Linked DNA regions of Homo sapiens. The protein of the gene in region 1 purifies or fractionates together with the protein of each later gene. This does not show direct contact. Each region holds a gene or a part of one and is shown in the gene's direction. Other genes may lie near its edges.

Region 1 (3,500 bases):
CCGAGGTCTTGTTAAAATGTGGATTCTGATTCAGTAGGGCAATACGTTCCACACTTTGAGTAATATAGCTCTAAATTACATTGGAGGTCAACGCCAAATTGAGATTTTAAACTCAAAATGATTCTTTCAACTGTTTTAAAAGGTGAAGGGGAGTGGTTGTGAGAAATTTTAATAGAAGTTAAAAATCTTAGTGTTATGACCATTTTGTGGAGCTTTCACCATCAAAACTATAATCAGATTATGTGAAGATTCTAAGACTTTTTTGGTCTTAAAAAGGTATAAAAGATGTTGAAACAGAAGATCTTGAGGATAAGATGGAAACTTCTGACATACAGATTTTCTACCAAGAAGATCCAGAATGCCAGAATCTTAGTGAGAATTCATGTCCACCTTCAGGTACCTGGTATTGTTTGTCCTTTTCCATAATGGTGCTCTTCTGGTATTTGGTGTGGGGGCTTGTTTTGCAGTACCCAAAGTCACAGCCTTGTGAAAAGTTTTGTAAGGAAAATTAAGAAAGTAAAGAGAATTTATGTTACAATAGATACTTTTTCTATATTTAGAATGCCATTCTCTCCTAGTTCTTCCACTATCTTTTTTTCTTCTTTTACTATCTTTTTTTTCTTCTTCTACCACTAAGAAAGTATGGGCGTGTCTATATTGGAAATGCAAATAGAGTCTTCACCAAAACCCAATGTCTATGAATTCCCAAATCAACCTTGCTTTCTAAATAAATACTACTTCTATTTCTGAGTCACTTGCTCAATTTCCTTTTAGGATCCCTGGGCTGCCCTGCAAGTTGATGAAGTTAGTGTGCTACCCAAATGCGCCTGGCTGAGAGGTTGAGTAGGGGCTGAGATCCAGCCTGTGTCGTTTGCAACACAGTGCACTGAGGGGCTGTGTCCTCCAAGAGGAGCTCCCTTTTGTCATTTACACAAAGGCACTGTATAAGTTAGCTGTGGCCCTGTGAGGCCCCCTTATGCTTCTCAAAGCATATTTTCTTGATGGTTTTATGAGACCGGCAAGTTGCATAATATGCCATAATAAAAAGTTATGTATAAAAGAGTATCAGGAAGGAAATTGGGATTAATAGTGGTGGTAGAAGAAAAATGATATTAGAATAACATCATAAAGAGAAAATGTGCAGATTACGTCTGCAACTGAATGTTACAAGTTTTTTTGTTTTGTTTTGTTTTTTTGGTCATTTCAGAATAAAATCTGTTACCCCTTGGAAAAAAAAAACAGATACATGAATATGAGTTGCTTTAAATTTTCTGACACGTGAAGATTCTTGCATGCCTTTTGTTGTTGTTGTTGTTATTGTTTTTTGAGACTGAGTCTCTCGCTCTGTTGCTCAGGCTGGCGTGCAGTGGCACAATCTCAGCTCACTGCAACCTTGGGTTCAAGTGATTCTCCTGCCTCAGTCTCCCAAGTAGCTGGGACCACAGGCATGTGCCACCACATCTGGTTAATTTTTGTATTTTTTTTGGAGAGGTGGGGATTTCAGCATGTCGGCCAGGCTGTTCTTGAACTCCTGACCTCAAGTGATCCATCCACCTCAGCCTCCCAAGTGCTGGGATTACAGGCATGAGCCACTGCACCTGGCCTTTACATGTCTTTCGTGTGAGTTTAATTCACTTAACCTTTTAGAAATTCTCCCTTTCTCTAAAATGGGTAGGTTAGACTCAGTAGATAATTTCCAAAGTCTTTGCTAGCTCTTAATGATTTATATGCCTACCTGTTATTGAGATAAAGCCTTTGATTATTTTTTAAAACTTCTGGTTATGTTGAGAGAAAATATCATTTGAGAACTTGAAGAACGACAAAGCATTATTGCTCCTTAATAAGAAATTGCTTTGAGAATCCAATGTTAACAGTTTGGTTTTCTTCAAAGATCGTGGGAGGATTTGTTGCTTTTTTCACATACAGCATTGCCTTTAGTAGACAGCTTGTCTTACCCTGAATGGGGCCATTCTTTCTTTGGTTTCTGTTAGCCTTCCATGATTGTATAAAAAATAATTCATGTTTTTTTTTTTTTCTTTCTTGCCATCAATACTTTGTCACTGAGAGAATTCTGTACTTCAAATTAGTGGAAAAGCTAGAATGGTTACCAAGAGAAAGGATTCTAAACTTTCTCCAATGAGGATCTTCTTGCTGGAGTCAGAATTTGTGGACATTAGACTGTAGCTATTGCCGTGATTCCTCAGAGCAGGAACTGTTTGGTAATTTTGCTCCTTTTGTATTCCAGAAGTGTCTGATACAAACTTGTACAGCCCATTTAAACCAAGAAATTACCAATTAGAGCTTGCTTTGCCTGCTATGAAAGGAAAAAACACAATAATATGTGCTCCTACAGGTAAGCCTATTGCCATTACTTACATAGTTTTTCTGTTTGCTTCCTTTTTTTTCTTTTGTTGAATACTGGGACAGAATGGGCAAGTTTCAGTTTTTTCCTTGTTCCATGTGTCTTTTGAGAAAACTGTCCTAATATAATCCTAATGTTTTTTATGGGATTATGTAATTAATTAATTATGTACATTAATGTATTTAATGTATTTTCTTTACCTTTCATGAGAAGGTAAAGAAAAGTGTCCTCTTTTAGCTTGCTTTTGGGTCCTGGCTGTTGGCATGCTACTTAGGGAGCAGCTTGATATTTTTTAGTCATAGTGTAAATTCTGTAATCATTAACATATTTAAATTATCAATTAATTAGTCAGCTCAGTGGTATTAGAAGAGCCAAAAATAAACACCTTTCCAGAGAAATATCTAATATATGAGTTACATGTTTTCTTTTTTCCTTACATGTTAAAAGGTTGTGGAAAAACCTTTGTTTCACTGCTTATATGTGAACATCATCTTAAAAAATTCCCACAAGGACAAAAGGGGAAAGTTGTCTTTTTTGCGAATCAGATCCCAGTGTATGAACAGCAGAAATCTGTATTCTCAAAATACTTTGAAAGACATGGGTAGGTATAATAGTTGCTTCAACTTCTTTTTCTCCAGCTTCATGTAATTGATGTGTTTTCTGTTTTGTTTTTGACAAATGATTTAAAAAAATTTATATTAGATTCAGCTTTTTTATAATCCAGATGTTATCCCTTCATGGATTCAAGTCTTTTTTGTTAGATGTACCAGAAAACTTAAACTCCCCTGGTTTGCCCTTCTATGGGGAGTAAATGACTTCAGGAATAAATTTGATGTTTACGTGGCACATTTAACTTCTTTAGTGATTTTATAATTTATTTGATATTATTCTTTTACGTACTCTTTTCTCTCTTAGTGACTTAAAATAATATATAGTACTATAAATTACAACTAGCTTGGATTTATTGATCTCTTACTATGTGTCAGGCTCTGTGCTAAGGACTTGCCTACAGCTATTCTTCTTTTGGACTCAGGGAGAATTTAATCAGTTGATGTTCTGATCTAGCATTTCATCTTTGTGGTTCCTTATCCACATCGTGGTTAGTAATATGGAATTTCTGTCATTTCCCAGGTATAGA
Region 2 (3,500 bases), about 66 Mb from region 1:
TCAAGTGATTCTCCCACTTCAGCTTCCTGAGTAGCTGGAACTACAGGTGTGCACCACCACTCCTGGCTAATTTTTGTATTTGTTGGTAGAGATGTGGCTTCACCATGTTGGCCAGGGTGGTCTTGAAAACTCCGACCTCAAGTGAACTGCCCACCTCAGTGTCCCAAAGTGCTGGGCCCCCTTTTATTGTATTTTATTTTATTCTTGTTAACATTTTTTAATAGAGGCGGGGTCTCACTATGTTGCCCAGGCTGGTTTCAAACTCCTGGACTCAAGTGATCCACCTACCTCAGCCTCCCAAAGTGCTGGGATTACAGACCTGAGCCACCAAGCCTGGCCCCCAAGGGTCTTCTTATGGGCTCTGTAAACTTGACTTCAGTTCCTGAAAGCAGTCTGATCATATATGAAGATATATCATTTCAGTCAAAGCCTTGGTAAAATTACCAGTGTCTCCAATGTGGTCTGTTATGAAAGAAAACATACTCTTATTGAACTTATGCAAATAACTATATTGTCATAAAATAAGAATACTCACAAATAGCCAGGTGCGGTGGCTCACGCCTGTAAACCCAGCACTTTGGGAGGCTGTGGTGGGCGGATCAGTTGAGGTCAGGAGTTGGAGATCAGCCTGGCCAACATGGTGAAACCCCATCTTTACTAAAAATACAAAAATTGTGCTGGGCTCAGTGGCTCACGCCTGTAATCCTAGCACTTTGGGAGGCCAAAGTGGGTGGATCACGAGGTCAGAAGTTCGAGACCAGTATGACCAACATGGTGAAACCTATCTCTACTAAGAATGCAAAAATTAGCTGGGCATGGTGGTGGGCACCTGTAATCCCAGCTACTCGGGAGGCTGAGGCAGGAGAACTGCTTGAACCCCACGAGGCAGAGGTTGCAGTGAGCCAAGATTGTGCCACTGCACTCCAGCCTGGGCAACAGAGAAAGACTCCACCTCAGAAAGAAAAATTAGCCAAGCGTGGTGGCATGTACCTGTAGTCCCAGCTACTCAGGAGGCTGAGGCAGGAAAATCGCTTGAACCTAGGAGGCAGAGGTTGCAGTGAGCCGAGATCATGCCACTGCACTCCAGCCTGGGTGACAGAGCAAGACTCTGTCTAAAAAAAAAAAATTAATTTAAAAATGAAAATAAAAAAAGTAAACACAAATAGTTTGCAAATTTTGGTGAAATCAGGTAGAGAGAAAGACAAATGTTTCAATTTTGCTCACAAAAGTATCTTTTATCCAGTTGCTGTGACAAAAGAAAAAATTTTCTTGACTGAAAAACAATATAAAAAGAATCAGCAATGTTTCAAATTTTAAAAATCATAAAAATCACTTTTATCCTCTATCAGTTTAGTCCCATGTAAATAATTCTTGCTCTGCTTGATGTTGGGTTAGCAGTCTTCATGAATGCCTCAGGTTTTTATTAGAGTTCTGGAAGCTTTTGCTTAATCCAATGGTAAGATCTCTGAAGTTACCAGAAACCTGTATTCAAGAGTACTTGTCAGGGTTTTTTTCCAAAAATTTCCTTAAAGATGAAGCAAATTTTGTAGCTGATTATAAACGACTTTTTTTAAAAGAATCAAAGTAAAATAAAAATTGTCGGCTGGGTGCGGTGGCTCACGCCTGTAATCCCAGCACTTTGGGAGGCTGAGGCGGGCCGATCACGAGGTCAGGAGATCGAGACCATGGTGAAACCCTGTCTCTACTAAAAATACAAAAAAATTAGCCAGGCGTGGTGGCGGGCACCTGTAGTCCCAGCTACTTGGGAGGCTGAGGCAGGAGAATGGCATGAACCCGGGAGGTGGAGCTTGCAGTGAGCCGAGATTACGCCACTGCACTCCAGCCTGGGCGACAGAATGAGACTCTGTCTCAAAAAAAAAACAAATTGTCTGTGGATGATAAAAGGCTTAGAATAGCCACGGTCAAAGATGAAATTGACTAGGATATGTGGTTATTTGTGTGGCACACACCAGTTTATCATAATAATTATGATAATGATATACTGATAACATATACCAAGACATATCAGACTTTTAGGAATCTCATACAATTTTGGAACACATTAATAATACGCTTTTATAAATATAACTCAAAGAAAGTTAAACATCATTTCTTATTTGACAATATTTCCCATATGACTTTGACATCCCAAATAAGCCTAATGTGTCTCTTTTGGACTTCCAGGGGTCCTGGTTATGCCCAAGTTAGCTTGGGTCAAAAAGACTTAATTTAATTTTGGGAAGTATCTCAAATATTAAAGGTTTAAAACACTTGATATAGAAATAAGAAAGGTTTAAAACACATGATCAAAATAGAATCACAGGTCACTACAAAATAATGGTAATTACTTTAGCCAAAATGATTATTCAAAGATTTCAAAAAGCAAAAACCACTCTGATAGAGGAGATTCAGTTCTCAATCAAGAGACCTAATAAAGACAGCATGGGACAAACTCTCCCCAGTTACCTTTTCTTTGCCATTTATGCAAAAGTAAATACATCTTTTACCGTCTCTTATTAATTCTACATTACATTTTTATTCAAAGGAGAAAAACAAGTTTTACTTTTAGGCCAGGCACAGTGGCTCATGCCTGTAATCCTAGCCCTTTGGGAGGCCAAGGCAGGCAGATCACTTGAGCTCAGGAGTTCAAAACCAGCCTGAGCAACATGGTGAAACCCTGTCTCTACAAAAGATACAAAAATTAGCTGCGTGTGGTGGTGTGTGCCTATAGTCCCAGCTACTTGGGGGGCTGAGGCAGGAGGATTGCTTGAGCCTGGGAGGTCAAGGCTGCAGTGAGCCAAGATTGCACCACTGAACTTCATCTTGGGTGACAAAGTGAGACCCTGTCTCAAAAAAAGAAAAAAATTACTTAGGTGTTAGTATATTATCTATCATCCAATTTCAGTCAGCTTTGACTACACAAGATAAGATAATCGATAATCTCTCACCATTTTCTATTAAAGAGCAGATCAATGCTCTGATAAAACCTGGTTGTTCCAACACAGGAGCCCAGACTCTGGCCTTACATGAGTGTGCTTTTGATATTAATACTTAAGTTTTAGAAAAACTTATAAAAAATTCCTTCTTTTTTTTTTTTTTTTTTTTTTTTGAGATGGAGTTTCGCTCTTGTTGCCCAGGCTGGAGTGCAGTGGCATGAACTGCCTCACTGCAACCTCCACCTCCCAGGTACAAGCAATTTTCCTGCCTTAGCCTCCCGAGTAGCTAGGACTACAGGTGCACAACACCATGCCCAGTTAATTTTTATATTTTTAGTAGAGACGGGGTTTCACCATGTTAGCCAGGCTGGTCTCAAATTCCTGACCTCAGGTGATCCACCTGTCTCGGCCTCCTAAAGTGGTGGGATTACAGCCATGAACCACCGCGCCTGGCCATTTCCTTCTGATTTTTTTTTTTTTTTTTTTTTTGAGATTGAGTCTTGCTCTGTCACTCAGGCTGGAGTGCAATGGCGCAATCTCTGCTCACTGCAACCTCCACCTCCC
Region 3 (3,500 bases), on another chromosome or scaffold:
TGGAATGCAGTGACGTGATCTCGGCTCACTGGAACCTCCACCTCCCGGGTTCAAGCGATTCTCCTATCTCAGCCTCCCAAGTAGCTGGGACTTCAGGTGCACTCCATCATGCCTGGCTAATTTTTGTATTTTTAGTAGAGACGGGGTTTCACCATATTGGTCAGGCTGGTCTCAAACTCCTGACCTCAGGTGATTCACCCGTCTCGGCCTCCCAAAGTTCTGGGATTGCAGGCATGAGCCACCGCACCTGGCCTGTTAGTCACTCATAAGTGATTTTAGCATTTAAAGAAATTTATTAATGTAATAGATCTTTGCAAAGGGGCATGGGGAGAGGGAAGTGGGGCACTGAATAGTGCTTGCCTCGGGAAGTCGTTTCCAAATGCTGTCCTCTGTTGTCTGTTTGTAATTTGACTGATATTTGTAGTCTCTCTATCAACTTTTGCAAAGAAGTTTTCTTTCTTAATATTCTGTTGGCACGTTGTTATCCTTTAACACTGCCAATCTGCCGTTTGCTTTCTCAGTATTATTGGTGTTGTCCTTAACATGGAAGGATCTGTAGGTCCTGATGATTGAACCATGGGTATCTTCACAGGGGTCCTGGTACCTGTGTTAATGAAAAACACAAATTGTTATGTTATTTGTTCTCCAGACTTTACTTATTTTCCTCTTCTAATTCTGTTAAAAATCTGTTTCTTGAAAAATATGTTTACAGCATGAAGAAAATTATCCTTTTTCTTTTGCAGCTTATTTGCTTTTAGTTCTGTTCTGGACACTGTGTTACTTAGACCCAAAGAAAAGAACGATGTAGAATATTATAGTGAAACCCAAGAGCTACTGAGGACAGAAATTGTTAATCCTCTGAGAATGTAAGTAGAAAACAAATTGCTATTTTGCCTTTACATGGTGTTCTATTTGCTGTTTTCTGGTATAGTAATTAATTTATACCTTGTCTTCATGTAATAAGAGATGGGTGAAAATTAGTTCTTATGGTAAAATATTACGTTTTTAAACCTTTGGTCCTTGTACTTTTTTGCTTATTTAATTTCTTAAATGTGGCCAAGGTGTAGAACATAGCATATTCCATGAAATGATTTAACCTATTTTGCTAGAGTAAACTATAATTTAGCAATTGCAGTATGTTTAGGAAAGCTAATACATAATACTTAGGATTCTTATCTTTTGAAATAGTTTATTCCAACACTTCTGCTACAAGTAATCATGCTTATTAGTTAAATTGGTGTAGTCTAGCTTCTTAAATCTGAAAGAAAAGGAGAAAGGGAAATTCTTTATAGAATAGCTAGTGTTTAATACTTTGGACTAGCAACAGATGAGATGTATTTTAGTACCATATTTTTTGGTTAAAGGAATATATTTGGCCTCTTTCCACCTGCCTTAAAAAGGTGATTCTTTTTCCATTTCCTACTTTAGGAATTATAAATATGTCTTTTTATGGCCACAGGAAGCAATTTGTAATGGTACAAGCACAAGTGACAGGAGATATCTAGTAAAGACTTTGAATAAGTGGTAGTAGTGATATGTGATAATGTCACATTATAAAATTTAAACTATGAAGAATTAGGACCATAGATCATAAAACAAATTTGTTCATTCAGGAATATAGAGAGAAAGTGATTTATTTAAAGTCCATATTAAGATAAATTTGAATCCTTTTATATACTGTTCTTATTTATCAATTAAAGTAAAAAATAGTTTGATATCAAATTTGAACCAAAAAAGCAGAATACTCAAATACAATGAGGATTCCAAATTATCTGCTATATCACATGACTAGGAAAGTAAATTATAAGAGAATAAATTTCCTCACTTATATCTTTTGCTTTCTTTAAATTCTGTAATGATTTCTCTAATGATCTTACTCTTTAAGATAATTGTGAATCTTGATTTTCACATCAACTATTTTGTCTTATGCAAATTTTTAAACATACGATTTTTTTCCCCCAAGTAATTGATACTGGAACAAGACAGGTCAAACCCGAAACTCTAAGGCATGTTAACACCTCCTTCCTAGAAGAGAGGAAGAATAAACATTCTTTGGATCCTATTGTTCAGCCAGTTAAGAATCATAGTTAATCACACTTTCTTACCCTGTCCACGGTAAGAAACTGGTCAGATGCCCTGTTGTGATCAGGATTCCCTGTGTCTGTAGCATTCATATCTGTATATAGCTGACTGGTTTTATTTGGTGCTGAAATCTCTGCTTTTCTTCAGAGACCCTGTCTTTTTAACCTTACTCATTTTGTATTCCCAGTGGCTGACAGGTTACGTTACTATGTAAGTGGTAGATTCTCAGTCTGTATTGGTTGCAGGAAACTAATGAGTGAATGAATAGTATAAAAAGTGGATATAAAATTAGCTAGTTCTGACTTGTCCTTAGTAAACTTATGGTAGCCGCCAAGTTCTCCTCTGAAGCCATTTTTAGAATTACAAATTTAAAGTGATATTAAACTGATTGAATGTGTCTTGCATTCAGACAAAGAAGAGAGAAAATGTCATCATTATGCCAATTGGTTTGATTGCAGATTTTAGATTTTCAGTTTCTTATAAATTCCCTTTCCCATTTCCCTTGGTGGCTGTTTCACACTTCAGTATTAAAAGGATATTCTCTCTCAAAATTGTATATTCTGCTTTATAAAGTAAATGCTTTAATTTCCCAAGCAAATATTATTTAAAAAATCAGTCACAGCAAACCTAAAAATTTTTTATCTTAGTGTATGACAGTTACTTGTAGAGCATATAATAGTGTCTAGGATAATTCTGGTTCTAGATCTTTAATTTTGCAAACTTCAAGAAGAAGCTTATCATTGTTTTCTTCAAAAATAATTGTCTAACCTATTGATTTATGACATACTGGAGTTGTATAAGAAATGTGTTGGCCAGGTGTGGTGGCGCACACCTGTAATCCCAGCACTTTGGGAGGCCGAGGTGGGCGGATCACTTGAGGCCAGGAGTTCAAGAGCAGCCTGGCCAACATGGTGAAACCCTGTTTCTACTAAAAATACAAAAATTAGCTGGATGTGGTGGTGCACGCCTGTAATTCCAGCTACTTTGGTGGCTGAGGCATGAGAATCTCTTGAGCCTGGAAGGCGGAGGTTGCAGTGAGCTGAGATCGGGCCACTGCACACTCCAGCCTGAGTGATAGAGTGAGACTCTATCTCAAAAAAAAAAAAGAAAAAAAGAAATATGTGATTAAGATGTGTTATATAATTTAATACATGCCAATATCAATTAATAGTTTTTTACTAACTTAGATATGGATATGTGTGTGCCACAAAAATTATGAAACTGAGGAAAATACTTGAAAAGGTGGAGGCTGCATCAGGATTTACCTCTGAAGAAAAAGGTGACCATCTTAACTTATATGCGTTAAAAATAACTGAAGAGCATATTCACATGTCAAAGTATTAGCTGAAATGTGTGTCTGTGTAGTTGGGGGGTTTTCTTTTAAATTAGAAATTTCTTTTTATGTGATATATGGTTAG
Region 4 (3,500 bases), on another chromosome or scaffold:
AGCATATGGGTGATGTATACTACTCTTCTCCATATATAAATTTGAAATTTTCCACAGTAAAAAAATAAAAATACGTGTATAGTGAGTCTGAATTGGCCTTGGTTACTTTAAAAATATTCAACTTGTGAACTAAAAGCTACACACTAGACTAGAAAAACATTGCTGGTGTTAGTTGATGAAAGTTAATTCCCTCAAATCCAGACACCTTAATATCCTTTGTGTGGTTTACTCTCAAATGCATGAGTGTTCTCTTTTGAGATAACTATACTGTTATTGTGCGGCTTTCCCATTTGCTAAGATGCAGATCTGTAAATTATAGACCATCTTTAAAAGCCTGCAGCTGGCCAGGCATGGTGGCTCACACCTGTAATCCCAGCACTTTGGGAAGCCGAGGTGAGTGGATCACCTGAGGTCAGAAGTTTGAGACCAACCTGGGCAACATGGTGAAACCCCATCTCTACTAAAAATACAAAAATTAGCTAGGTGTGGTGACACATGCCAGTAGCCTCAGCTACTCGGGACTCCGGAGGCTCAGGAAGGAGAATCGCCCGGGAGGTGGAGGTTGCAGTGAGCCGAGATCACGCCACTGCACTCCAGCCTGGATGACAGAGCAAGACGGAGCCCAATTAATTGCTATATACTAATGAGGGCCTTGCCTTTCTTCTGCTCCATGCTCATCTTTCATTCTTGTTGTCTACTCCACTCTCCAAATAGTATTGGCCTTGTAATTTGTATGAAATAAAATCTCTTGTATTGAGAATCAGACCTATCTTTTTTTTTTTTTTTTTTTTTTTGAGACAGAGTCTCGCTCTGTCACCCAGGCTGGAATGCAGTGGCCCAATCTTGGCTCACTGCAAGCTCTGCCTTCCAGGTTCACGCCATTCTCCTGCCTCAGCCTCCGGAGTAGCTGGGACTGCAGGCACCCGCCACCACGCCTGGCTAATTTTTTGTATTTGTAGTAGAGACACAGTTTCACCGTGTTAGCCAGGATGGTCTCGATCTCCTGACCTCGCGATCCGCCTGCCTCAGCCTCCCAAAGTGCTGGGATTACAGGCGACAATCAGACCTATTTTAAAGATTAGATTGAAGGCAAGGTTGGCCAAAATGAGATATTTATTAGATAATACTTATGTTTCCAAATAACTGCTAGTAATTAAGAATATGCTAGAAACATTACATTCACTCAGTAATATTGAGAGCATACTACATGGCTGTCCGTCTTCTGGGAACTGGGGATATGGTAGTACATATAATAGGCCTTTTACGAATTTACATAAGTAATTATGTTAGATGGTAATAAGTGCTATGGAGAAACATAATGCAGGGTATGCATGGTAAGGAGGAAGGGGTGGATATTTATAGAGAATAATAAAGGAAGGTCATCCTTTGATAAGTGACATTTGAGGAAAAAAGTGAAGGAGATGAGGGAGAGCCATGCTTCTATCTGAAGGAGGAGCACCCTAGAAAGAGCTAGTGCAAGGGGCCCTTGGGGGCAGGTCATGCTGGTTGGTTAGCCTGAAGAGAGTAAATGTAGTAGAGGAGTAGGAAATGAGGTCAGAATGATAAATAGGAATGTTAGGGGAGATAGAAAATGCCAGATCATACGGATCCTTATGAGGGCTATCTTATCTGAGTAGGAATGGAAGCTGTAAGTGGGTTTCACGCAGAGTAGTGGTATAGCCTATCTTAACCTTAAAACTGGCAAAAGCAAGTAGCCTAGTCAGGAAGCCAATCCAGGTATCAGAGAAAGCAGTGCCTGTAATTGTAGTTAGTGCTGGTGAAAGTGATGGGAAGTAGTTGAATTATGGATATGTTTTGAAAATAGAGCAACAGGAATTACCAGTGGCTTAGATGTGGCATGTGAGAATGATGTCAACAATAAATGGATTTATTTTAAAATGTGTAATATCAGTTATCTAAAATGTTATAGTTTGTTGCAAAATATAAGTAAAAATGAAAAGTCTTGAGGATCGATATCCCTTAAGATGTCTACAGGCATAGTATTGAATACATTTGTTCAAGCTGGTTTACCTAGTGAAGGAGGTCCCAACTAGTAAGGCAGTTTCAGCCATCTCTTGTAACAGATTATTCTTTGTGATGGGTATACATTTGTTAAATAATAATAAGGTTAGGATGCTGATGTATAGTATATACACAAGCACTTACTATTCTACACAATTTATTTATTTATTTATTTTAATTGAGATAGGGTCTCATCCTGTTGTCCAGGCTCTGGCGCAGTGGTGTGATCACAGCTCACTGTAGCCTCGACCTCTCAGGCTCAAGGGATCTTCCCACCTCAGCCTCCTGAATAGCTGGGACTATAGGCATGTGCCACCATGTCTGGCTAATTTTTAAAAATATTTGTAGAGAAGCGATCTCACTGTGTTGCCCAGGCTGGTCTCCAACTCCTGGGCTCAAGCGATCTTCCCACCTTAGCCTCCCAAAGTGGGATTATAGGTGTGAGCCACCGTGCCTGGTGTTTACACAGTTTCTTCATTAGCAAAAGACATAACTAATCTTTTCCCTCTAGGGTAACTTAAGCAAAATGAGAGAATTTTCTAGCAAATTGCAAATGTTCAGAAGTCATTCTGAGACAGTACATTTAACTCTTTAACAGATATTTATAGAGCAATAAATATCACTGCAATGATATTGCAATGTTCCAGGCAGTGTTCTAGACTAGCAGTCCCCAGCCTTTTTGGCACCGAGACCAGTTTTGTGGAAGACAATTTTTCCATGGGCGGGATGGTTTCAGGATGAAACTGTTCCACCTCAGAGCATCAGGCATTAGATAAATTCTCATAAGGAACACACAACCTAGATCCCTTGCATGCCCAGTTCACAAATGCTGCTGATCTTACAGGAGGCAGAGCTCAAGCAGTAATGCTCCCTCCCCTGCTGCTCACCTCCTGCTGTGTGGCCCAGTTCCTAACAGGCCATGGACGCATAATGGTCCATGGCCTAGGGGGGAGTTGGGGACCCCTGTTCTAGATGGTAGATACCAACTAAGAATAAAAATGAAAACCTCTTATGGAATTTATTATTAGGTAAAAAACTATTCATCGTTTTTACTCAAATTTTCAGAGACCTTATCAAATTCTGCCTTTTTTTTTTTTTTTTTTTTTTTTTTTGAGACTGAGTCTCTGTCACTCAGGCTGGACTGCCGTGGTGAGATCTCGGCTCACTGCAACCTCCACTTCCCGGGTTCAGGTGATTCTCTCGCCCACCATCACACTTGGCTAATTTTTTGTGTTTTTAGTAGAGGCAAGTTTCAACATATTGGCCAGGCTGATCTCGAACTCCTGAGCTCAAGTGATCCCCCACCTCAGCCTCCCAAAGTGCTGGGATTACAGGCGTGAGCCACCGCTCCCAGCTAATCCTGAAAATTTCTTATAGGCACAAGAGTCAGGTGAGAGTAGACACACAAGAGATGCAGAGATAGTACAGAGTTTTGTTTTTTGCGGGGGAGGGTTTTGCGGAAGAATGGCATGATAACC
Region 5 (3,500 bases), on another chromosome or scaffold:
ATTTTTAGTAGAGACAGGGTTTCACTGTGTTGGCCAGACTGGTTCAAACTCCCGACCTCGTGATCCACCTGCCTCGGCCTCCCAAAGTGCTGGGATTTCAGGCATGAGCCGCCACACCTGGCCTTTTTTCTTTTTTAATCCAGTCTCGTTTATGACATTTAGATTCTTATTTTCTCTTTATTATTTTTCCTGATAATTTGACTTTCATTCCCCTTTCTTGTCATTAGCTCTACTGAAAGTGTACTGAAGGGCTGGGTGCAGTGGCTCACACCTGTAATCCCAGCACTTTGGAAGACCGAGGCAGGCCAATCACTTGAGCTCAGGAGTTCAAGACCAGCCTGGCCAACATGGCGAATCCCCATCTCTACAAAAAATACAAACATTAGTAGGGCATAGTGGCACATACCTGTAATCTCAGCTACTCGGGAGGCTGAGGCACAAGAATCGCTTGAACCTGGGAGGCAAAGGTTGCAGTGAGCTGAGATCGTGCCACTGCACGATCTCTCTCTCTATATATGTATATGTATACTAAAGGTCACCAATAATTTCTTAGTAAATATAATGACATTTTCTTCAGGACTTTTTATCCTTCAGAATCACGTTACCTTTTTCTTCCTTCAATTTCTATGTATGGTTCAATTCTCAGCATTTACTATTTTGAGAAAGTACACTTACTCACTCTCTTTCCTGTTTATTCAAACAACTCCCAGATCTGTGTCTTTATTCCTGACCTCTTTTCCTCATTTCCTTTAGCACCTAATTTCTACCTGCCCAGTGGACATTTCCATTTGTGTGTATACAGTATTGCCAATCAATCTAAAACTAAGCTACTTATCTTGACTTCTCAATTTTTGGTCTTTGATATTACCAGTCTTCTTGTCCACCAGCTATAAAACATAAATTTTATTTGTTTGTTTGTTTTTGAGACAGGGTCTGGCTCTGTCGCCCAGGCTGGAGTGCAGTGGCCCATCTCGGCTTACTGCAACCTCCATCCCCCACCCTCCGGCTCAAAATATCCTCCCACCTCACCCTCCTGACTAGCTGGGACTGCATGTCCAGCTAATTTTTGTATTTTTAGTAGAGACGGGCTTTCGCCGTGTTGCCCAGGCTGGTCTCAAACTCCTGAGCTTAAGTGACCCTCCTGCCTCAGCCTCCCATAGTGCTGGGATTACAGGCATGAAGCTAGCCAAAACATAAGTTTTTCTTGTTTTCTTTGTTTTTGTTAAAGAAACAGGGTCTTGCACTCCCAGGCTCAAGCCTCCCAAGTAGCTAGGAGCACAGGGCAAGCCAGCATGCCCAGCTAATTTTTTTTAAACTTTTTTTTTTTTGGTGGGGAGGGGGATAGAGACGGGTCTCACTATGTTGCCCAGGCTGTCTCAAACTCCTGTTCTCCACCAATCCTACCTTGGCCTCCCAAAGTGTTAGGACTACAGGTATGAGCTACCTTGCCCGGCCTATTTACATTTTTTTGCTGCCTTCTTTCCTTCCAGATCCACTTGTTCATCACATATTGTTGATTTTCCTTTTTCTAGCTTCAATTTTTCACTTGGTCCAGTTTGGCCTACAGAGTGGCACTAGAATTAGCGAAGGCACAATTATAATCATGCGATTTCTATACTTAAAAATCTGCCAGTCTCTGTGTCACGTAAAAGGATAAAACGTAAACTTTCAACGGGGTAACGTGCTTTGATCTGTTACTATAATCCAGCCCCAACCTACCTTAACCATCCTTTCCTGCACTCCCCTTCATTGACCCCTGAACATATCCTGCTCTTTCATTTCTTTATTTTTGCTTTAGGTGCCTTCCTCCCTCCTAACACCTGGTGAAGTCTTACCCATATTGAATTCAGCTGAAATACCACAGTGACACCTTGCACAGCTCCCCCAAACAGAGTTAATAACTCCTTTCTGTGTTTCAATAGAACCTTGTTGCATTTATTATAGTGTATCACATTGTACTGTAAATTTTTTAATATACTTGTCCCATGTCTCAGAGCTTCCCACACACACACATATTCATCTGGAAGTTCACTGAGAACAGAAACTGCCTGTATTCCCTATCCTATTTTCCCACAAGGGCCTTAGTGCATAGGAGACCCTCTTTTGTATCATGATGTCTTTCTTTTCATTCTTTGTGACATATCAGTGCTTAGAATAATCATGCAGAAGCACCATTTTTTTAAATTGCCTCATTTGCTCAAAACTTGTATTTTCTTACTGCTTATTGAGATTAAGTTCAGGGCTGGGCACTTTGGGAGGCTGAGGCAGGAGGATCGCCTGATCTCAGGAGTTTGAGACCCACCTGAGCAAAATACTAAGACCCCCGTCTCTACAAAAAATAAAAAAGTAACCAGTGTAGTGGTGCATGCCTATACTCCCAGCTACTCAGGAGGCTGAAGCGGGAGGTTCACTTGAGCCTGGGAGATTGAGGCTGCAGCAAGCCATTATCACATCACTGCACTCCAGCCTGGGTATAACAAAGCAAGACCTTGTCTCAAAAAAAAAAAAGAAAAGAAAAGAAAAAAAGATCTGGCCGGGCTCAGTGGCTCATGCCTGTAATCCCAGCACTTTGGGAGGCCGAGAGGAGCAGATTGCTTGAGCCCAAGAGTTTGAGACCAGCGTGGGCAACATGGAGAAACCCTGTGTCTACTTAAAAAAAAAAAGAAAGAAAGAAAAAATAGCTGGGTGTGGTGGCCCACACCTGTAATTGCAGCTGCTGGGGAGGCTGAGATGGGAGGATCACCTGAGCCCAGGTTATGGAGGTTGCAGTGAGCTGAGATTGCACCATGCCACTGCACTCCAGCCTGGGCCACAGAGCAAGACCCTGTCTCAAAAAAAAAAAAGAGATCATATTCTTTAGCCTGTCCTTCAGGACACTCACCATTATTCACAGACCATTTATTATGCTCCCTATTATGTTTAAGATATGCCGTACATAGCTGGCACCAACTGCCTTTTTAAAGCCTTTCTTCTCTTTATGAATAAGTGTATAAGTACCCAAGTCTTTTGCCCAAGCCAAACTGGCTTGCGCACTTTCTTCCAAACATAAGGTGGTTTTTGTTTTTGGGTTTTGTTTGGCATCTTTTCTTTCAAAGCTCTACCCATTTTTCAAGACCTAGTTAGGTTCTGCCTTGTTTATAATGCTCTTCTGACCATGTCTGCAGAAATATTTTTCTCTTCTTCTCCAGACTCATGTAGCAGTTCATCTTCAGTGCCTCCTAATTCTTTTTTTTTTTTTTTTTTGAGGCAGAGCCTTCACTCTGTTGCCCAAGCTGGAATGCAGTAGTGCAACCTTGGCTCACTGCAGCCTCCGGGTTCAAGCGATTCTCATGCTTCAGCCTCCCAAGTAGCTGGGATTACAGGTGTGTGCCATCATGCTCAGCTAATTTTTTGTATTTTTAGTAGAAACAGGGTTTCACTGTTTTGGCCAGGCTGGCCTTGAACTCCTGGTCTCAAGCAGTCCTCCCCACTCAGCCTCCCAAAGTGCTGGGATTACAGGC
Region 6 (3,500 bases), on another chromosome or scaffold:
CATAATAGGATGGAAGGAAATTGTTATTTACTATGTATGGGCCACTGGATAAGGCTATTAATCATCACGATTAATTATCACAATTCCCTCTGAGAGACACTGTTATCTCTCCATTCCGAAGGTAAGGAGAAAGTGAAAATCTCTTCCTTGCTCCTCCTCTTGCTGCAGACTTGCTCTCACAACCCTCTGTTACATCCTCAGCTGTCTGCAAAATCTCAGGTTCAGCTTTCCTGACTCCATTGTTTCATGGAGAGCCTTGTTCACGTGCCGGCTTCAGCGCAGGCTGTTTAAGTGTAGTCTTGTGAAGAGAGTTTTAACATATAGATGCTGCATCTGGGGGCTCCCTCCTCAGCTACCAACACTTTTCTGTCCCTCTCTTAGGCTGTGATTGGTGTGGTGCCGTCAGAGGGTCTCTTTGGAATGTAACTATACCACTTATGCTGGGGTGGTGGGGAGTGAAAATATTTTTAAGACCACAAGCTGAGATGGGGGCACCCTCATGTTTTATGTCAGTTAAGCCATTGCCAAACAACTGGAGATCCTAAAGAGCTGGCATCTGTCTTTGAAAGTCACCCAACCTATTATGGGGACAGTCCTCTCACTAAAATCCTGAGGCCAATGGGGTCCCATTCATTCATTTTCTCCTGCCCCACCTCCATCTCCATGTCGTGTAAGTGAGAACATTATCATCAGTTCAGGAGTTATTGACCGTCAGCATACAGGACTTCAGCTTTCAGCAAATTCTTGGCTACCTCTTCCTGTTTTCAAGCTGACATATATACAAAGAATATAAATGAATATTGAGGCTAACTTAATTCAGAAAAAAAATAAAACGTGGTTAGCAAAAAAAAAAAAAAAAAAAATCAAGCCTCCAATTTATGTATCTTAGTAATTTGTTGGCACTTCTCTTAGAGTACCTTCCCTATTGTTTTAGGTTTGCTTTCCCTTTACTCTCTCCTATTAGACTATTATCCCCGTGACGGCAAGGATATAGTGTCTAACTGATTTTCTCATCTCTAGGTGCCTTTCATGCTTAGTAGATCAATGGTGAATTAAAAGGTTTCAAAGTTACTTTATATAATAATGAAATTTAGTTTCCTGCATTGTATTCATGTTCCTATTTCTATCTGTTAGCAATGGTGATTGCAGATCTTCAGCAATGAAGAATGGGTGGCTCATTTTTTTTTTCTTCTCGTTTTTTTTTTTTTTTTTTTTTTTGAGACGGTGTCTCGCACTGTCGCACAGGCTGGAGTGCAGTGGTGCAATCTTGGCTCACTGCAAGCTCTGCCTCCCGGATTCACAGTATTCTCCTGCCTCAGTCTCCTGAGTAGCTGGGACTACAGGCGCCCGCCACCACGCCCGGCTAATTTTTTGTATTTTTAGTAGAGACGGGATTTCACCGTGTTAGCCAGGATGGTCTTGATCTCCTGACCTCGTGATCCACCCGCCTCGGCCTCCCAAAGTGCTGGGATTACATGCGTGAGCCACCGCGCCCGGCCTCTTCTTTTTTTTTTTTTGAGACAGAGTCTTACTCTATCGCTCATGCGGGAGCACAATGGCGTGATCTCAGCTTACTGCAATCTCTGCCTTCTGGGTTCAAATGATTCTCGTGCCTCATCCTCCCGAGTAGCTGAGACTACAGGTGCCGCGCCACCACACCCAGCTAATTTTTGTGTTTTTAGTAGAGATGGGGTTTCGCCATGCTGCCCAGGCTGGTCTCAAACTCCTGAGCTCAAGCAATCCGCCAGTCTCGGCCTCCCAAGGTGCTAGGATTATAGGCGTGAGCCACCGTGCCCAGCCCAGCTCATATTTTATAAATTAGCTAAACAAATAAAGCTCTGGACATCCGGGAACTTATGATTGAAATAAAAAATGGCCTATTATATTTTGATTCAAATTTGTTTATTATATTTAGATTTCTATTTTGTGACATGTTTTGGGGTTCTTTTTTTTTCTTTTTTTTTTTTTTTTTGTGAGACGGAATCTCGCTCTGTCACCCAGGCTGGAGTGCAGTGGCGTGATCTCGGCTCACTGCAAGCTCCGCCTACCGGGTTCACGCCATTCTCTTGCCTCAGCCTCCCCGGAGTAGCTGGGACTACAGGCGCCCGCCACCACGCCTGGCTAATTTTTTGTATTTTTAGTAGAGACGGGGTTTCACCGTGGTCTCGATCTCCTGACCTCGTGATCCGCCCGCCTCGGCCTCCCAAAGTGTTTTTGGGGTTCTTAAGAAGATAAGGTATAAGCTTTTAAAAAGTTATGAAAAACTTTAAAAAGTTATAAAAAATTTTTTATAAATTTATATTTATTGTTACTTTTAACATACTGTGAATTTTATACCCAGGTCAAAGACTAAGTGCCTTTTCATCCAAATGGAATTCTGTGATAAAGGGACCTTGGAACAATGGATTGAAAAAAGAAGAGGCGAGAAACTAGACAAAGTTTTGGCTTTGGAACTCTTTGAACAAATAACAAAAGGGGTGGATTATATACATTCAAAAAAATTAATTCATAGAGATCTTAAGGTAAGTGGAAAATGTACTTTATTAATTGATATATATATAATATAGTAATTTTAAAATATATCTTCTCAGCTGGGCACAGTGGCTCACGCCTATAATCTCAACACTTTGGGAGGCTGAGGCAGGCAGATCATCTGAGGTCATGAGTTCGAAACCAGTCTGGCCAACATGGTGAAACCGTGTCTCTACTAAAAATACAAAAATTAGCTGGGCATGGTGGCGTGCGCCTGTAATCCCAGCTACTCGGGAGGCTGAGGCAGGAGATTCGCTTGAACCTGGGAGGTGGAGGTTGCAGTGAGCCAAGATTGTGCCACTGCACTCCAGCCTAGGTGAAGAGTGAGACTTGTCTCAAAAAAAAAAATTATATATATATATAAAATAAGATAGATAGATATATATTTTTTTCTCTAGTTTTAGAATAGTGGTTGATTGATAGTTATGAGAAAATGGTATCTGAACATTTCCATGCAAATAATTACTGTGACTGGCACAGCCAACTGGCTGCTCTGCCCCTGTTCCTCCTGCCTCCTCTAAGTGACTCAGCTTTATTTGAGAGGCAGAGGGGACTCTGTTGACTGTTGCTTTAGGAATATGGTTCCCTAATCTCTCAGTCATTACTCGCGAGGGCTGTCACAGCTACTGGGTCCAGAGTCTAATACTGTCTTGGTTAAGCATTTCAACCCCATGATTGGAAAATTGCGGTAATCCCGGACTGGGAAAGTGTATCATCCCTTAGTATTTTCATTTTCCTCTGGCTTTTATGGTCCGGACAAGGAGTTTCCCTATTTTTTACTTCTCATTAAAATGACAGAAGGTGAGAGACAGAATAGCCCTTCACAGCCTTTCCTCCATTCCCTATTCCCTGTGACTTGCCTAAGCCTGTCACAAGCTGGCCGTCCTGAATCCTGTCCCTGGACCTTTGCTCATGTTCTTCTCTCTCATGGGACACTCTTCTGCCTGCCCCCTTTGGTTGTAATTCCT
Region 7 (2,941 bases), on another chromosome or scaffold:
ACCATCCTGGCTAACACGGTGAAACCCCATCTCTACTAAAAATACAAAAAATTAGTCGGGTGTGGTGGCAGGCGCCTGTGGTCCCAGTTGCTCAGGAGGCTGAGGCAGGAGAATTGCTTGAACCTGGGAGGTGGAGGTTGCAGTGAGCCGAGATTGCACCACTGCACTCCAACCTGGATGACAGAGCAAGACTCCATCTCAAAAAAAAAAAAAAAAAAACGCTTAGATGGGAGATTGAGACCACGGTGAAACCCCGTCTCTACTAAAAATACAAAAAATTAGCCAGGCATGGTGGCGGGCGCCTGTAGTCCCAGCTACTCAGAGAGGCTGAGGCAGGAGAATGGCATGAACCTGGGAGGTGGAGCTTGCAGTGAGCCGAGATCGCGCCACTGCATTCCAGCCTGGGCGACAGGGAGACTCTGTCTCAAAAAAAAAAAAAAAAAAATGCTTAGATGAATAAAAGCCGGGTGTCTAAAAGGAAACTTTAAACTCTAGGTTATTCAGGTAATCCATCAGTGTGATGAGGTGTTTGCATTGTTGGATGATGTGTACCAAGTATACTAGATGCCATGAGATTATTCTTTATGGATTAAGTCATCCATCAAGAGACTTTTTGGCTTTTTGGTATTAAGTGAATTAGTGTTACACAAGAGCCATAACATATTTATGATGACAGAAAATAGATTAGACACACAGTTTCTAGTCATTGGAAACTGTTATATACTCCAGTGTCTCTAAAGAAAATACTTACCAAGTAAGACTTAACCTCTGCAAAAGATGAGTGATTTTTTCACTTTAACAAAGTGTGGGGTGTTTATGGTGTAATTTGGATTCTAAAACCAGAGGTTTTAAAAATACTTTTAAGGCTAGGTGTGGTGGCTCATGTCTGTAATCCCAGCACTTTGGGAGGCGGAGGCAGGTGGATTGCCTGAGGATGGGAGTTCAAGACCAGCCTGACCAACATGAAGAAACCCTGTCTCTGTCTCTATTAAAAATACAAAATTAGCCAGGCATGGTGGCGCATGCCTGTAATCCCAGCTACTTAGGAGGCTGAGGCAGGAGAATTGCTTAAACCCGGGAGGTGGAGGTTTCGGTGAGCCGAGATCACACCATTGCACTCCAGCCTGGACAACAAGAACAAAATTCCATCTCAAAAAAAAAAAAAAAAAAAAAAAAAAGGCTGGGCACAGTGGCTCATGCCTGTAATCCCAGCACTTTGGGAGGCCGAGGTGGGTGGATCACGAGGTCAGGAGGTCGAGACCATCCTGGCTAACACGGTGAAACCCCGTCTCTACTAAAAATATAAAAAATTAGCCAGGCGTGGTGGCGGGCGCCCGTAGTCCCAGCTACTCGGGAGGCTGAGGCAGGAGAATGGCGTGAACCCGGGAGGTGGAGCTTGCAGTGAGCCAAGATAGCGCCACTGCACTCCACCCTGGGCGAGAGCGAGGCTCCGTCTCAAAAAAAAAAAAAACTTTTAAAAACTGGGTGTTTTCATTTTCTACACTGGTCAGTCGTGTTTAAAAAATGGTTAAACTAGACAAAAGAGCCGTGCCTTCAGGAAAATTGGTGATCTGTATGTTACCACAACTGAATTTATTTTCCTTCCTTAAAGACCCAGATTGATCACTATGTTGGCATCGCCCGAGATCAGACCAAGTCAATTGTTGAAAAGTAAGTACATTTAGAGACCACATCATCATGAGGTATGCTTCCTTCCCCCCAATTATCTTTAGTCCCTTGTACAAAATGCAGATGCCAAGGAAAGTAATTTTCATTTTGATAAAAACCTTAGTTAATAGTTTCATTTTACTAAAAATTATTATAGCTGCTTCTATAAAAAGGAAAAAAAATCCTTTATATCTTTTTCTGGCCCTGCCTTCTGGACCTTTGTAGGCCAGGCATTTTGACTCACATCTGTAATGCCAGTGCTTTGGGAGGCCGAGACAGGAGGATTGCTTGATCCCAGGAGTTCAAGACCAGCCTGGGCAACATAGCTAGGCCTTGTCTCTACTAAGAATAAAAAATTAGCTGTGCATGGTAACACGTGCCTTTAGTCCCAGCTACTGGAGAGGCTGAGACAAGAGGATCAATGGGAAAAAAAAGATCAGTGGAATTTTTTGGAGACAGGGTCTTGCTTTGTCACCCAGGCTGAAGTGCAGTCTCGACCTCCTGGGCTCAGGTGATCCTCCCACCTCAGCTTCTCCAGTAGCAAGGACCATAGGCTACTCTGCCTTTTTGAACTGGCTTTTAAATGTTCTTCATTACAGGCTGGGCACGGTGGCTCACACCTGTAATCCCAACACTTTGGGAGGCCAAGGCCGGTGGATCACGAGGTCAGGAGTTCGAGACCAGCCTGGCCAACATAGTGAAACCCCATCTCTACTAAAAATACAAAAATTAGCCAGGTGTGGTGGCATGCAACTTTAGTCCCAGCTACTCAGGAGGCTGAGGAGGGAGAATTGCTTGAACCTGGGAGGCGAGGTTGCAGTGAGCAGAGACCATGCCATTGCACTCCAGCCTGGGTGACAGTGAGACTCCGTCTCAAAAAAAAACCAAAAAGTTATTGGTTGCTTCCCCACCTTCATTTATTTTCACATGTATTCATTTAAGCCAAACGTATCCCTCTCAGAAACAAAAGTTCTAGTAAATAAGTAACTTAAGGATCAAAGTTGTCTTTTCTAAGATTGCCAAATCTCTGTTCCCATTTTTTTAAACCAATTAATAAATCAGGAAATAAAATATTGACAAACATCTTTATGACTCCCTATATCAAAGAGTTGTTTTCTTCTTTTTACTTTTTTTCCCCATACCTAGAGGACAGTATTTTTTTTCTTTTTTCTTTTTTCTTTCTTTTTTGTTTTGCTTTCTAGAGACAGGGTCTCACTCTGTCACCCAGGTTGAAGTGCAGTGGCACAAGCTGAAAGCTCACTGCAGCCTTGAC

Evidence for each region.
Region 2: the proteins of RIGI (region 1) and TRIM14 purify together in Homo sapiens (affinity purification with western blotting, with the first as the bait; one study listed by BioGRID). This does not show direct contact.
Region 3: the proteins of RIGI (region 1) and CYLD purify together in Homo sapiens (affinity purification with western blotting; one study listed by BioGRID and IntAct). This does not show direct contact.
Region 4: the proteins of RIGI (region 1) and TIA1 fractionate together in Homo sapiens (co-fractionation; one large-scale study listed by BioGRID). This does not show direct contact.
Region 5: the proteins of RIGI (region 1) and MARCHF5 purify together in Homo sapiens (affinity purification with western blotting; one study listed by BioGRID). This does not show direct contact.
Region 6: the proteins of RIGI (region 1) and EIF2AK2 purify together in Homo sapiens (affinity purification with western blotting, with the first as the bait; one study listed by BioGRID). This does not show direct contact.
Region 7: the proteins of RIGI (region 1) and RTN3 purify together in Homo sapiens (affinity purification with western blotting; one study listed by BioGRID). This does not show direct contact.

What each region holds. Positions count from the first base shown.
Region 1 is NC_000009.12:32,488,197-32,491,696, reverse strand, and holds part of RIGI (antiviral innate immune response receptor RIG-I), read left to right. Parts: intron 1-276; coding exon 277-396; intron 397-2,245; coding exon 2,246-2,353; intron 2,354-2,809; coding exon 2,810-2,963; intron 2,964-3,493; coding exon 3,494-3,500.
Region 2 is NC_000009.12:98,112,723-98,116,222, reverse strand, and holds part of TRIM14 (tripartite motif-containing protein 14), read left to right. Parts: intron 1-3,500.
Region 3 is NC_000016.10:50,783,586-50,787,085, forward strand, and holds part of CYLD (ubiquitin carboxyl-terminal hydrolase CYLD), read left to right. Parts: intron 1-273; exon of another isoform or gene 274-604; intron 605-743; coding exon 744-866; intron 867-3,253; coding exon of another isoform or gene 3,254-3,269; coding exon 3,270-3,361; intron 3,362-3,500. UniProt on the Homo sapiens protein: Deubiquitinase that specifically cleaves 'Lys-63'- and linear 'Met-1'-linked polyubiquitin chains and is involved in NF-kappa-B activation and TNF-alpha-induced necroptosis.
Region 4 is NC_000002.12:70,242,129-70,245,628, reverse strand, and holds part of TIA1 (cytotoxic granule associated RNA binding protein TIA1), read left to right. Parts: intron 1-3,500. UniProt on the Homo sapiens protein: RNA-binding protein involved in the regulation of alternative pre-RNA splicing and mRNA translation by binding to uridine-rich (U-rich) RNA sequences.
Region 5 is NC_000010.11:92,297,667-92,301,166, forward strand, and holds part of MARCHF5 (E3 ubiquitin-protein ligase MARCHF5), read left to right. Parts: intron 1-3,500. UniProt on the Homo sapiens protein: Mitochondrial E3 ubiquitin-protein ligase that plays a crucial role in the control of mitochondrial morphology by acting as a positive regulator of mitochondrial fission and as an important regulator of immune response.
Region 6 is NC_000002.12:37,118,981-37,122,480, reverse strand, and holds part of EIF2AK2 (interferon-induced, double-stranded RNA-activated protein kinase), read left to right. Parts: intron 1-2,341; coding exon 2,342-2,522; intron 2,523-3,500.
Region 7 is NC_000011.10:63,754,500-63,757,440, forward strand, and holds part of RTN3 (reticulon-3), read left to right. Parts: intron 1-1,612; coding exon 1,613-1,671; intron 1,672-2,941. UniProt on the Homo sapiens protein: May be involved in membrane trafficking in the early secretory pathway. Inhibits BACE1 activity and amyloid precursor protein processing. May induce caspase-8 cascade and apoptosis.